Homo sapiens: one gene and its partners. The protein of the gene in region 1 purifies or fractionates together with the protein of each later gene. This does not show direct contact. Each region holds a gene or a part of one and is shown in the gene's direction. Other genes may lie near its edges.

Region 1 (3,648 bases):
TTTTCACAAGAAAATTAATTATGCAATTTAAATAAAAATGTAATTATTCATATGGCACCTCAAGCAGTGTGATCAGTTTTAAACTGTGTGAGGAATACTGTCTTTCTTCAGTCCTGACAGTTTATTTCTGAGAGTAAGTATATCAAGAATTCAAATTTAAGGCTCTTTGGTGAGGCCTGGATCAAATGTCTCTCCTTGAGAGATTGGCTAAGTGTTCTCTAGGTGGATTCAGTGGAGAATATCATTACAGAGAGCAGAATGAACAAAGCCCCGTGTCTCTGTAATGATATATTCTGAGAACTAAGGAAAAGGACATGAGAATCTGCAAAAATACTGTAGCATTAAGGACGCTTTCTTCATAACCTCATAGCCTATGTTGGAAGGGCGTTTAGACAGCTTACCCAGGTTCATAGGCATTTGCTTTCTCTTCAATATGAAGAGGCTGAGCAGCAATTTGATTTCATCTCTAAGTCGTAGCTGGTGAGATCTACCCAATTCCATTACAATCCAACAAATCAAATGGTGGTCTCTGGAACTACAAAGTCTAAGGATTAAAATTACGTATGATTTCACTTAAAGAAAAACCTTGCAACACATTCCAAGGTGTGGATAATTCAAAAACATTTTTAAAAATAAGTTTTATGCTGGGCGTGGTAGTTCACACCTATAATCCCAGGAGATGTCAGCCATTTCAAAGAAAATCAGAATCAGATTTTTTTCTTATTATTGTAATTGTTTATTATTTATTTGTAATTTTTGTGGGTATATAGTAGGTGTATATATTTATGGGGTACATGAGATGTTTTGATACAGGCATGCGTGCAATTGCAATGTGGAATAAGCACATCATGGAGATTATCCATCCTCTTAAGCATTCATCCTCTGAGTTACAGACAATCCAATTACGCTCTTTATTTTAAAACATATAGTTATTATTGACTATAGTCACCCTGTTGTGCTATCAAATAGTAGGTCTTATTCATTCTTTCTATTTATATTTTATTGTACTACCTATGTATTGAAAAGTTGTTGTAGTTATTTTTTATTGGTTCATCGTTTAGTCTTTCTACTTAGGATGAGAGTAGTTTATATACCACAGTTACAGTATTATAATATTCTGTGTTTTTCTGTGTACTTACTATTACCAGTGAGTTTTATACCTTCAGATGATGACTCATTACTCATTAATGTCTTTTCTTTCTGGTTGAAGCACTCCCTTTAGCATTTTTTGTAGGACAGGTCTGGTGTTGATGAAATCCCTCAGCTTTTGTTTGTCTGTGAAACTTTTTATTTCTTCTTCATGTTTGAAGCATATTCTCACTGGATATGCTATTCTAAGGTAAAGTTTTTCCCTTCAGCACTTTATATCAGCCCACTCTCTCCTGGCCTGTAAGGTTTCCACTGAAGGGGCTGCTGCCAGACATATTAGAGCTCTTGTTTGTTATTTGTCTCTTTTCTCTTGCTGCTTTTAGGATCCTTTCTTTATCCTTGACCTTTAGGAGTTTGATTATTAAATGCCTTGAGGTAGTCTTCTTTGGGTTAAATCTGCTTGGTGTTCTATAACCTTCTTGTACTTGGATATTGATATCTTTCTCTAGGTTTGGGAACTATTTTTTTTTTCTTTGACAGAGTGTTGCTCTGTAGCCCAGGCTGGAGAGCAGTGGCGTAATCTCGGCTCACTGCAACCTCTGCCTCCCAGGTCCCCGTTAAGCAATTCTCCTGCCTCAGCCTCCTGAGTAACTGGGATTACAGGTACATGCCACCATGCTCAGCTAATTTTTGTATTTTTAGTAGAGACGGGGTTTCACCATGTTGGCCAGGCTGGTTTTGAACTCCTGACCTTGTGATCCGCTCACCTCAGGAACTTCTCTTTTATTATCTCTTTGAATAAACTTGCTCTGTCACCCAGGCTGGAGTGCAGTGGCACTCTTGGCTCACTGCAACCTCAGCCTCCCAGGTTCAAACGATTCTCCTGCCTCAGCCTCCCAAGTAGCTGGGATTACAGGTGAGCACCACCACACACAGCTAATTTTTGTGTTTTTAGTAGAGGTGGGGTTTAACCATGTTGGCCAGGCTGTTCTCAAACTCCTGACATCAAGTGATCCACCTGCCTCGGCCTCCCAAAATGCTGGGAATACAGGCGTAAGCCACCACTCCCAACCCCTTTGAATAAACTTTCTACCCCTATCTCTTTCTCTACATCCTCTTTACAGCCAATAACTCTTAGATTTGCCCTTTTGAGGCTATTTTCTAGATCCTGTAGGTGTGTTTCATTGTTTGTTTGTTTTTTCTTTTGTCTCCTCTGATTGTATATTTTCAAATAGCCTTTCTTCAAGCTCACTAATTCTTTATTTTGCTAGATTTATTCTGCTATTAAAGGACTCTGCATTCTTCAGTATGCCAATGGCATTTTTCCAGTTCCAGAATTTCTGCTTGACACTTTTAAATCATTTCTATGTCTTTGTTACATTTATCTGATAGAATTCTGAATTCCTTCTGTCTTTGCTTGAATTTATTTGAGTTTCCTCAACACAGCTATTTGGAATTCTCTGTCTGAAAGGTCACATATCTCTGTTTTTCCAGGACTCGTCCTTAGTGCCTTATTTAGTTCATTTGGTGAGGTCATGTTTTCCTGGATGCTGTTGATACTAGTAGATGTTCTTCAGTGTCTGGGCATTGAAGGGTTAGGTATTTATTGTAGTCTTCACTGTCTGGGCTTCTTTGTACTCATCCTTTTGGGGAAGGCTTTCCAGATATTTGAAAGGACTGCAGTGTTGTGATCTAAGCAGTTTCTACTTTAGGGGACATCGCAAGCCCAGTAACGCTATGGTTCTTGCAAACTCATAGAGGTACCGCCTTGATGGTTTTGGACAGGATCTGGGAGAATTCTCTGGATCACCAGGCAGAGACTCTTGTTCTTTTCCCTTATTTTCTCCTAAACAAACAGAGTGTCTCTGTTCTGAGCCACCCAGAGCTGGGGTGGAGTGACACAAGCACCCCTGTGGCCGCCACCACTATGACTGTGCTGGGTCAGACCCGAAGCCAGCACAGCTCTGGGTTTCACTCAAGGCCTGCTGCAAATACTCCCGGCTACTGCCCAGCTTGCTCAAGGCCCTGAATCTCTACAATCAGCCAGTAGCAAAACCAGCCAGGCCTGTGTCCTTTCCTTCACGGTGGCAAGGTCCCCCAAGCCAGAGGTGTGTCCAGAAGTGACATCTGGGACTCAGGACCTAGAGTCAAAAACCTTAGAAGTCTACCTGGTGTTCTATTGTATTATGGCTGAGCTGGCACTCATACCACAAGATGCAGTCCTTCCCACTCTTCCCTTCCCTTTCCAAAGGCAGAGGAGCCTCACCCCATAGCCAGTCATCCTAGGCCAGGTAGAGTACTGTTGGACTACCATAGATGTTCCCTTGAGGCTCAGGGGCTCTTAAGTCAGCTTGGGATGAATGCTGCCTGGTCTGAGACTCACCCTTCAGAGCAGTGAGCTCCCCTCTGGCCTAGGGCAGTTCCAGAAGTGTTATCCAAGAGTCAAGTCCTGGAATCACGGATTCCAAGAGCCCACTTGGTGTTCTACCCTTCTGTAGCTGTGCTGGTACCTGAAGCCAGCAAGTCTCGGAGTCTCATCCAAGGCTCTCAACATAGTAC
Region 2 (3,648 bases), on another chromosome or scaffold:
CCGGAACTGAGGCTGTCATCCTGTGTCTCCTTAGACCTGCTGAAACTCAGCCTGCTGGGACGAGTCTTCTTTCCCCCTTCTTGTTTCTGCCATGGAAGTGTGTGGACAGCCCCATTCATGATGACATGTGACACTACTGGCTTTTCCCGGCAGTCACACCCCCTGACCCAGGGCCTGCCAGCTTGGGTAAGTGGGGCCCATGCTTGACCCAAGCTTGAGGGCTGGAGTGTCCAAGGGCATGGAGAGTGCCTGTGAGTTCTGCCAGAGAATTTTCTCTCTGTCCTTTGAATCCTGTCATTGTTCTGTGTCTCATGTCCTGGCTATTACATATGTATCCTCAATCAGGGTTTCCAGAGGTCACAGCTGCTCTCCCAAAAGGCCAATGGCCCTGATTCTGGGTGGGATTCTGGAGCCTTAGAACTCTGGTTGGGATCTTTGTGTATGGAAATTCTCCAATTCTCAGATTCTTCATATCTGTCCCTCCATTCTACCTCTAACCGTGTCTAGACAGTGTTCTCCAGTTTGGGGAGATGGAATCTGTTAGCACCATCGAGCGTGTAAGGAAGAGAAAATATCAAAATCTGTCTGCCTTTCTTTCCTGGAGGCTGCTGAGTGAGTCAGAGCCGGGGGAGCAGTGTGGGGCCCCAAGGAAGGGAAGTGGAGAGGCTTGTGTTTAACTAAAATACCTTCTACTTTTTTAGTCCATCTAGGTGGGGGCTGGCTGGGGGCAGTTTCACAGGGAAGAAAACACTGGCATGAAGAGAGCCTGGGGGATCGAGAACAGCAACTTACCTGGCACTTTTTAAGACCAGAAAGGAATAAAAAATAATTTTTAAAAAGACAGAGCTGAGGCTGGGTGTGGTGGCTCAAGCCTGTAATCTCAGCACTTTGGGAGGCTGAGGTGGGCGGATCCCCTGAGGTCAGGAGTTCGAGACCAGCCTGGCCAACATGGAGAAACCCCACCTCTACTAAAACCACAAAATTACCTGGGCGTGGTGGCACATGCCTGTAATCCCAGCTACTCCGGAAGCTGAGGCAGGAGAATGGCTTGAACCTGGGAGGCAGAAGTTGCTGTGAGCCAAGGTCGCGCCATTGCACTCCAGCCTGGGCAGCAAGAGTGAAACTTGGTCTCAAAAAAAAAAAAAGACAGAGCTAAGTGGGTGGTGGACTTGAGGTTAGGTTTCAGCTGGGTGATCGTAGGCAAGTCTGGCGACCTCTCTGGGCCCTTTCCCTTCATCTCCATGAGGGAGATAACGATCATTCCTTCATTCTTGACTTTTGGAGTTGCTGGAGGGTTAATGAGAGAGGAGGTCCCCTGCTTTGCGAAAACAGATCTCATAGCAGGGTGAACAAGAGGCTTATGCCCCAAGCTACTACAAAATGGGGTCTCCTAATTGTACCCACTAAATAGGGTTGTGAGGAGGATGAGATGTATAAAACACAAGAAGCATGTGGCATAGCTCGAGATCTCACTCATGGGAAGACCTCACTGTTGGGCGTTTCTCTTTCTATTAAGAGTATGAAGGCAGTCAGCATAATATGCGTGTTCAACAGAAAAGAACCACAAAGCAAACAAATAATGAAAGCAGGTTGAGTGAGAAAAATGAGAATGGCTTCTTTTTATGGCATCTGGAAGGGTGGGGGAGGGGAAAGAAAAGGGACAAAGGGATGATTGGGTGGGGTTGGTGCCTAGGGCATGGGTTCCAAGGTCACTAACCAGCTTTGTGCTCCCAGGCACTCCTGAGCTGCATTGCTGTGTGACCTGCAGCAGGTTACTTGCCTTCTCTGTGCTAGATGCTTAGCACACACTTGTGATTAGGATCACCTGGGATGTGGGCAGGCTCTGCAGTGGGAAAACAGGGTAACAGGAGTGAGGGAATGTGAGGACGCTCCCACTGAGGCCTATTCAGGGAGGAGCATGTGTGGTGTGAATTTGGTGTCAAACCTGGTTTTAAGTCCTGACTTCGCCTCTTGCTTCCTGGGTGACTCCAGTTACTTGGCCTCTCTGAGCTGGTTTCCTTATCTGTGTAGCAGAGATCACTGCTTTTTGCCATTAAGTGCTGGCCTCTAGATTAGCTGTCAGGGGAAAGTCCTCCAGAGTGTTGATGCCTTTTCTACACCCTTGGAGCTGGAACGAACTTCAGGGATGGGCGTTTAGTCCACTCCCCTCGTCCAGAGCTCAGAGACGGGGAGAGGCAGGCCCAAGCCTGCCGGGTGAGGTCAGCAGAGGGCTGTCGTATGGAATCTGGGGCTCAGGACTCTGTCCCATTTCTCTAAACCATTCTGCTTCAACCCAGACACTGACTGTTTTCCAAATTTACTTGTTTGTTTGTTTTGTTTGTTTAGCAATTGCTTCTCCATTCTTGAAGTTCCTAACCCCCATGAATCCACAACCATAACCATGGCCACGCGGGTCGAGGTGGGCTCCATAACGCCCTTGACGGCCGTGCCAGGCCTGGGTGAGATGGGCAAGGAGGAGACCCTGACGAGGACCTACTTCCTCCAGGCCGGCGAAGCCTCTGGGGCTCCCCCAGCCCGGATCTTGGAAGCGAAGAGCCCCCTGCGGAGCCCGGCCCGGTTACTCCCTCTGCCAAGGCTCGCCCCCAAACCCTTCTCGAAGGAGCAGGACGTGAAATCTCCTGTCCCGTCTCTGCGGCCCAGTTCGACTGGACCTTCCCCCTCTGGGGGGCTCTCTGAGGAGCCAGCAGCAAAGGATCTGGACAACAGGATGCCCGGCTTGGTGGGGCAGGAGGTGGGCAGTGGGGAGGGCCCGAGGACGAGCTCGCCCCTCTTCAACAAGGCTGTGTTCCTGCGGCCCAGCTCCAGCACCATGATTCTCTTCGAAACCACCAAAAGCGGCCCCGCTCTGGGGAAGGCGGTTAGTGAGGGGGCGGAGGAGGCCAAGCTAGGTGTGTCCGGCTCCCGGCCTGAGGTGGCTGCCAAGCCCGCCCTGCCCACCCAGAAGCCTGCGGGGACCCTTCCCCGGTCAGCTCCCCTGTCTCAGGACACAAAACCACCTGTACCCCAAGAGGAGGCAGGCCAAGACCATCCTCCCTCAAAGGCCAGCAGTGTGGAGGACACGGCACGCCCCCTTGTGGAGCCCAGGCCTCGCCTGAAGAGAAGGCCCGTGTCTGCCATTTTCACGGAGTCCATTCAGCCTCAGAAGCCAGGCCCCGGCGCAGCGGCCACAGTGGGCAAAGTGCCACCCACCCCTCCCGAGAAGACGTGGGTGAGGAAGCCCAGGCCCTTGTCCATGGACCTCACGGCCCGGTTTGAGAACAAAGAGGCCTTGCTGAGGAAGGTGGCCGATGAAGGAAGTGGACCCACAGCAGGGGATATGGCTGGGCTAGAGAGGCCCAGAGCAGCGTCCAAGCTGGACAGGGACTGTTTGGTCAAGGCGGAGGCTCCTCTTCATGATCCTGATTTGGACTTCCTGGAGGTGGCCAAGAAAATCCGTGAACGGAAGGAGAAGATGCTTTCGAAGCCGGAGATGGGCAGCCCCAGAGCCCTGGTGGGGGGCTCATCTGGGGTCACCCCCAGCAATGACCAGAGTCCCTGGGAAGAAAAGGCCAAGCTGGACCCAGAGCCAGAGAAGGCTGCTGAGTCCCCCTCACCCAGGCTGGGAAGGGGCCTAGAACTTGCTGAGGT
Region 3 (3,748 bases), on another chromosome or scaffold:
AATCCCAGCTACTCAGGAGGCTGAGGCAGGAGGATTGCAGGATCGCTCTTACCCAGTTTCTTTCTTTCTTTCTTTTTTTTTTTTTTTTGAAACGGAGTCTTGCTCTGTCGCCTAGGCTGGAGTGCAATGGCGCGATCTCGGCTCACCGCAACCTCCGCCTCCCGAGTTCAAGCGATTCTTCTGCCTCAGGCTCCTGAGTAGGTGGGATTTCAGGCCGTGCCACCGCGCCCGGCTAATTTTTTTCTTTCTTTTTTTTTTTTTCAGTAGAGACGGGGTTTCTCCGTGTTGGCCAGGCTGGTCTCGACCTCCTGACTTCAGGTGATCCACCCGCCTCAGCCTCCCAAAGTGCTGAGATTACAGACATGAGCCACCGCTCCTGGCCTCTTACCCAGTTTCTGCACGGAGCTCCTGATGCCTGATGGCCAAGAGGACATAACCCCACCTGTTCTAAGGGCATGGAGTGTATTTTTAGAGTGATTGGACAAAATATGTGCCGAACACCTACGTCAGGTCTGGCGCATGCTGGAGGCTGGGGTTATATCAATGCAAAAGCCATTCCCTGTATTTAACACGTAAATGAATTAGTCTCTTTAACTCTCCCAACGCCCTATAAATTATTTGCTCCATTTTACATATTAAACGCTGTCACGAACTGAGCTGCTGTGTGAGGCCGGGGCCGGACTTATCTTTCTGAAGCACAGAGAAGCGGTTATACGCAGAAGTTTGGGAGAACTGGGTAAGGCCGCACACATGGAAATTGCCAGTTTCGTGGGTCCCAACGTCAATACTGTGGGCAACCTTAGACCGGCTCAAAGCGCAGCTGGGGACGGTGATGAAGTGCAGAGCGTCCACAGCCAGCGACAAGACTGCCAAGCAACTGGCAGCCTGAGTAACGGAGAAAACAACGAAAAAAACGCATTCACCACCTACCAACAAGAAACAAAAAACACGACCACCCCACAGTCAGTCTACTTTTTAGGCGTGAATAAGGTCGGGCAGATCGCAACTCCCAGGCATCCCGCAAAGTAGGCGGGTCACCTTGAGGGCGACCTTTACCCGCTCAAAAATTCGTCTCACATTAGCAGTGAGGATTCGGGCGTCACCCCGAATCGTTATTTTCCTTACTCATAAGTTTAAGGCATAAGGACGTTTTTAGTTTATTTCCTAGGTAATGAATTCTATTCTCATTAGGCGTATGATGACTATCGTAGTTGACTGTTGAGGTCATGATCCAGTTCCATTGAAGTTTGTCTCACTTGTTAATAATGTATTTTGTTGCTTTTCATTTAATTTTTTCCCTCGAGGAAAATAAATAATTCATAATGTGCCGAACTTCCGTATGCAGATGAGCAGCCAGCACCGCGAAGGCTCACGGGGAACGTCCCCGCCCCTTCCGGTTCTTGCCTGCTTTGAGCTGGCTGTCGCGAGAGTTGGTCCGCGGACGCCGGAAGTAGTTCGTCGCTCCCTAGCGGCCGAAGGGGCGGGCTCGCGGGGTCTCGACTGCTTTCGGCTTGCTCGGCGGAGCAAGATGGCGGACATCTCCCTGGACGAACTCATCAGGAAGCGCGGGGCGGCGGCGAAAGGACGGTGAGAGGCCTTTCCTTTCTTCGGGGTTTAGGGTCCTCGGCCTAGTGGAGCTCGAGGCGGGGGAGGTAGCGATCCGGGAGCGACGCGGAGGACCGGGTGCGCCCGCCCCCGACCACAGCCGCGCTCCTCATTGGCCGGCTGCCGCCGTCCCCGCCGTGGCCCCGACCGCCCGCCCACTGGCCGAGGCGCAGTCCCTCTGGCGGCCCTGGGAGGCCGACGGGGCCGCGGCGGGGACAGGGTGCCGCCTCGTGGACCTGAGGGGCTGCCCCCTGGGGCCCCCGCGTTCCGGGGTCCTGGGGTCTCGGCGGCGCAGCCTCCTTGCCTGTGTGGACTGGCATTTGGGCCCCGCTCCGTGATCTCGGCGCTGCCTGGTCTCCACCCATCTTAGAGTTGAGACAACCGAAGTTTAGTAGCGGGGAAGTGACTTGCTCCGACCGCCGAAGCTGAGGCGCAAGCCCAAATCCCCCTGCACGCGGCCCCTGTTAACACTCGCCTCTCTTTGTGCGGCGTTTTAAGTTTTCTGAGCCCTTTCATATACACGATGCCTCATTTAATCTTTTACAGTCCTGTTGTCTGCTAGCTATTCATGTTACCCACCTTTTACTGATGGGGAACTTGAGGCTGGAAGTGGTAGAGTGACTTGCCCGAGGCCACGGAGAACTGAGCGGCGGGCTGAGCGCGATTTAATTGCTGGCTGAGTTGGCCTCCTACATGGGCTTGAAAAACTGGTGTGTTGGGCAGGAGATTGGTTATTTCCTTAGGGAGAAGAAAGTGCTTGAGCTGGCTGAGGAGCCATGGAGGTGATTTGCAGTCATGTCTCCCAAACTTCCCCTAGACCCTTAAATGTTGTTAGTCATTTCAAGCCTTCGTGAGCTGAGTTCATCTGTATGAAGAAGTGAGAACTTTGCCCAATAGTTTCCCAACACACATTAAGTTTAAATGTCTTTGTAAATAGCCAGGATGTAAATATGTTAGATATTGTTTTCTCAGACATTTGTTCTCTCAGCAGATGTTTATTTTTATTTTTATGTTTTTTTTGAGACGGGGTGTTGCTCTGTCGCCCAGGCTGGAGTGCAGTGGTGCCATCTCGGCTCACTGCAACCTCCGCCTCCCCGGTTCCAGCGATTCTCCTGCCTCAGCCTCCCAAGTAGCAGGGACTACAGGTGTGCACCACCACGCCCGGCTAATTTTTGTATTTTTAGTAGAGATGGAAGTTTCACTGTGTTGGTCAGGCTGGTTTCGAACTCCTGACCTCAGGTGATCCTCCCGCCTCGGCCTCCTAAAGTGCTGGGATTACAGGCGTGAGCCACCGGCCCGGCCATTCCGCAGATGTTTATTAATACCACCCGTATGCCTGTGGTTAGGTTTTTCTCTTGATGTCTGAAATGTATCCCTCACCTCCTTCCCCATCCTGGACACTTGTATCAACTACAACTGCCACCACCACCTCATAATTCGCAGCCAGCACTTACCTGGCTTGTGGTTCGTAACGGGCACACATTAGTATTTGTTTCCTCAACTACTGACTGTGAAAGCTCTCTCAGATCTCCATCTAGTGACTGATGTGAAGCTGGTGCTGGCTCCTCTGGCCACTTCTAAGTCCATCCACGTTTTGTAGGTTCCTTTGGAAACGACAGAATGATCCACCCCAGGTTCTTCTCTCTCTGAGGTCACTCCGCCAGTTTCTGACTGCAGGTGGACTGCACTGTAGTCTATTTGATCTCTATGTTTTTGGTTTTAGTGTGTGCAGAGTTTTGTGTTGGGCAGTAGGTGGGGCTGCAGGAATGGGGGGTGGTTATGTGTGGATCCACAGGAACAGGGGCCTTGCAGCTGGATACACCTGGCACTTGCCACTGTTGGGTTCTGTTTCCCTGGCCAGGGGAGTTCTGAACTAGGCAGTTTCCTCACTTGGAATGGTGATTCCTGGTTGAGCGGGATTAAATGTGAGAAGGGTTTTTTTTGTTTGTTTTTTTGAGAGGGAGTCTCACTGTATTGCTCAGGCTGGAGTGCAGTGGCACAGCCTTGGCACACTGCAACCTCTGCCTCTTGGGTTTAAGTGATTCTCCTGTCTCAGCCTCCCAAGTAGCTGGGATTACAGGTGCCCGACACCACGACTGTCTAATTTTTGTATTTTTAGTAGAGATGGGGTTTTACCATGTTG

Evidence for each region.
Region 2: the proteins of LUZP4 (region 1) and KIAA1671 purify together in Homo sapiens (affinity purification with mass spectrometry, with the first as the bait; one large-scale study listed by BioGRID). This does not show direct contact.
Region 3: the proteins of LUZP4 (region 1) and POLDIP3 purify together in Homo sapiens (affinity purification with mass spectrometry, with the first as the bait; one large-scale study listed by BioGRID). This does not show direct contact.

Annotation. Positions count from the first base shown.
Region 1 is NC_000023.11:115,296,205-115,299,852, forward strand, and holds part of LUZP4 (leucine zipper protein 4), read left to right. Parts: intron 1-3,648. UniProt on the Homo sapiens protein: Export adapter involved in mRNA nuclear export in cancer cells. Binds and enhances the RNA-binding activity of the nuclear RNA export factor NXF1. Can restore mRNA export function in cells compromised by loss of mRNA export adapters.
Region 2 is NC_000022.11:25,025,599-25,029,246, forward strand, and holds part of KIAA1671 (uncharacterized protein KIAA1671), read left to right. Parts: intron 1-34; 5' UTR 35-186; intron 187-2,346; 5' UTR 2,347-2,401; coding exon 2,402-3,648.
Region 3 is NC_000022.11:42,612,638-42,616,385, reverse strand, and holds the start of POLDIP3 (polymerase delta-interacting protein 3), read left to right. Parts: upstream 1-1,502; 5' UTR 1,503-1,528; coding exon 1,529-1,587; intron 1,588-1,606; exon of another isoform or gene 1,607-3,748. UniProt on the Homo sapiens protein: Is involved in regulation of translation. Is preferentially associated with CBC-bound spliced mRNA-protein complexes during the pioneer round of mRNA translation. Contributes to enhanced translational efficiency of spliced over nonspliced mRNAs.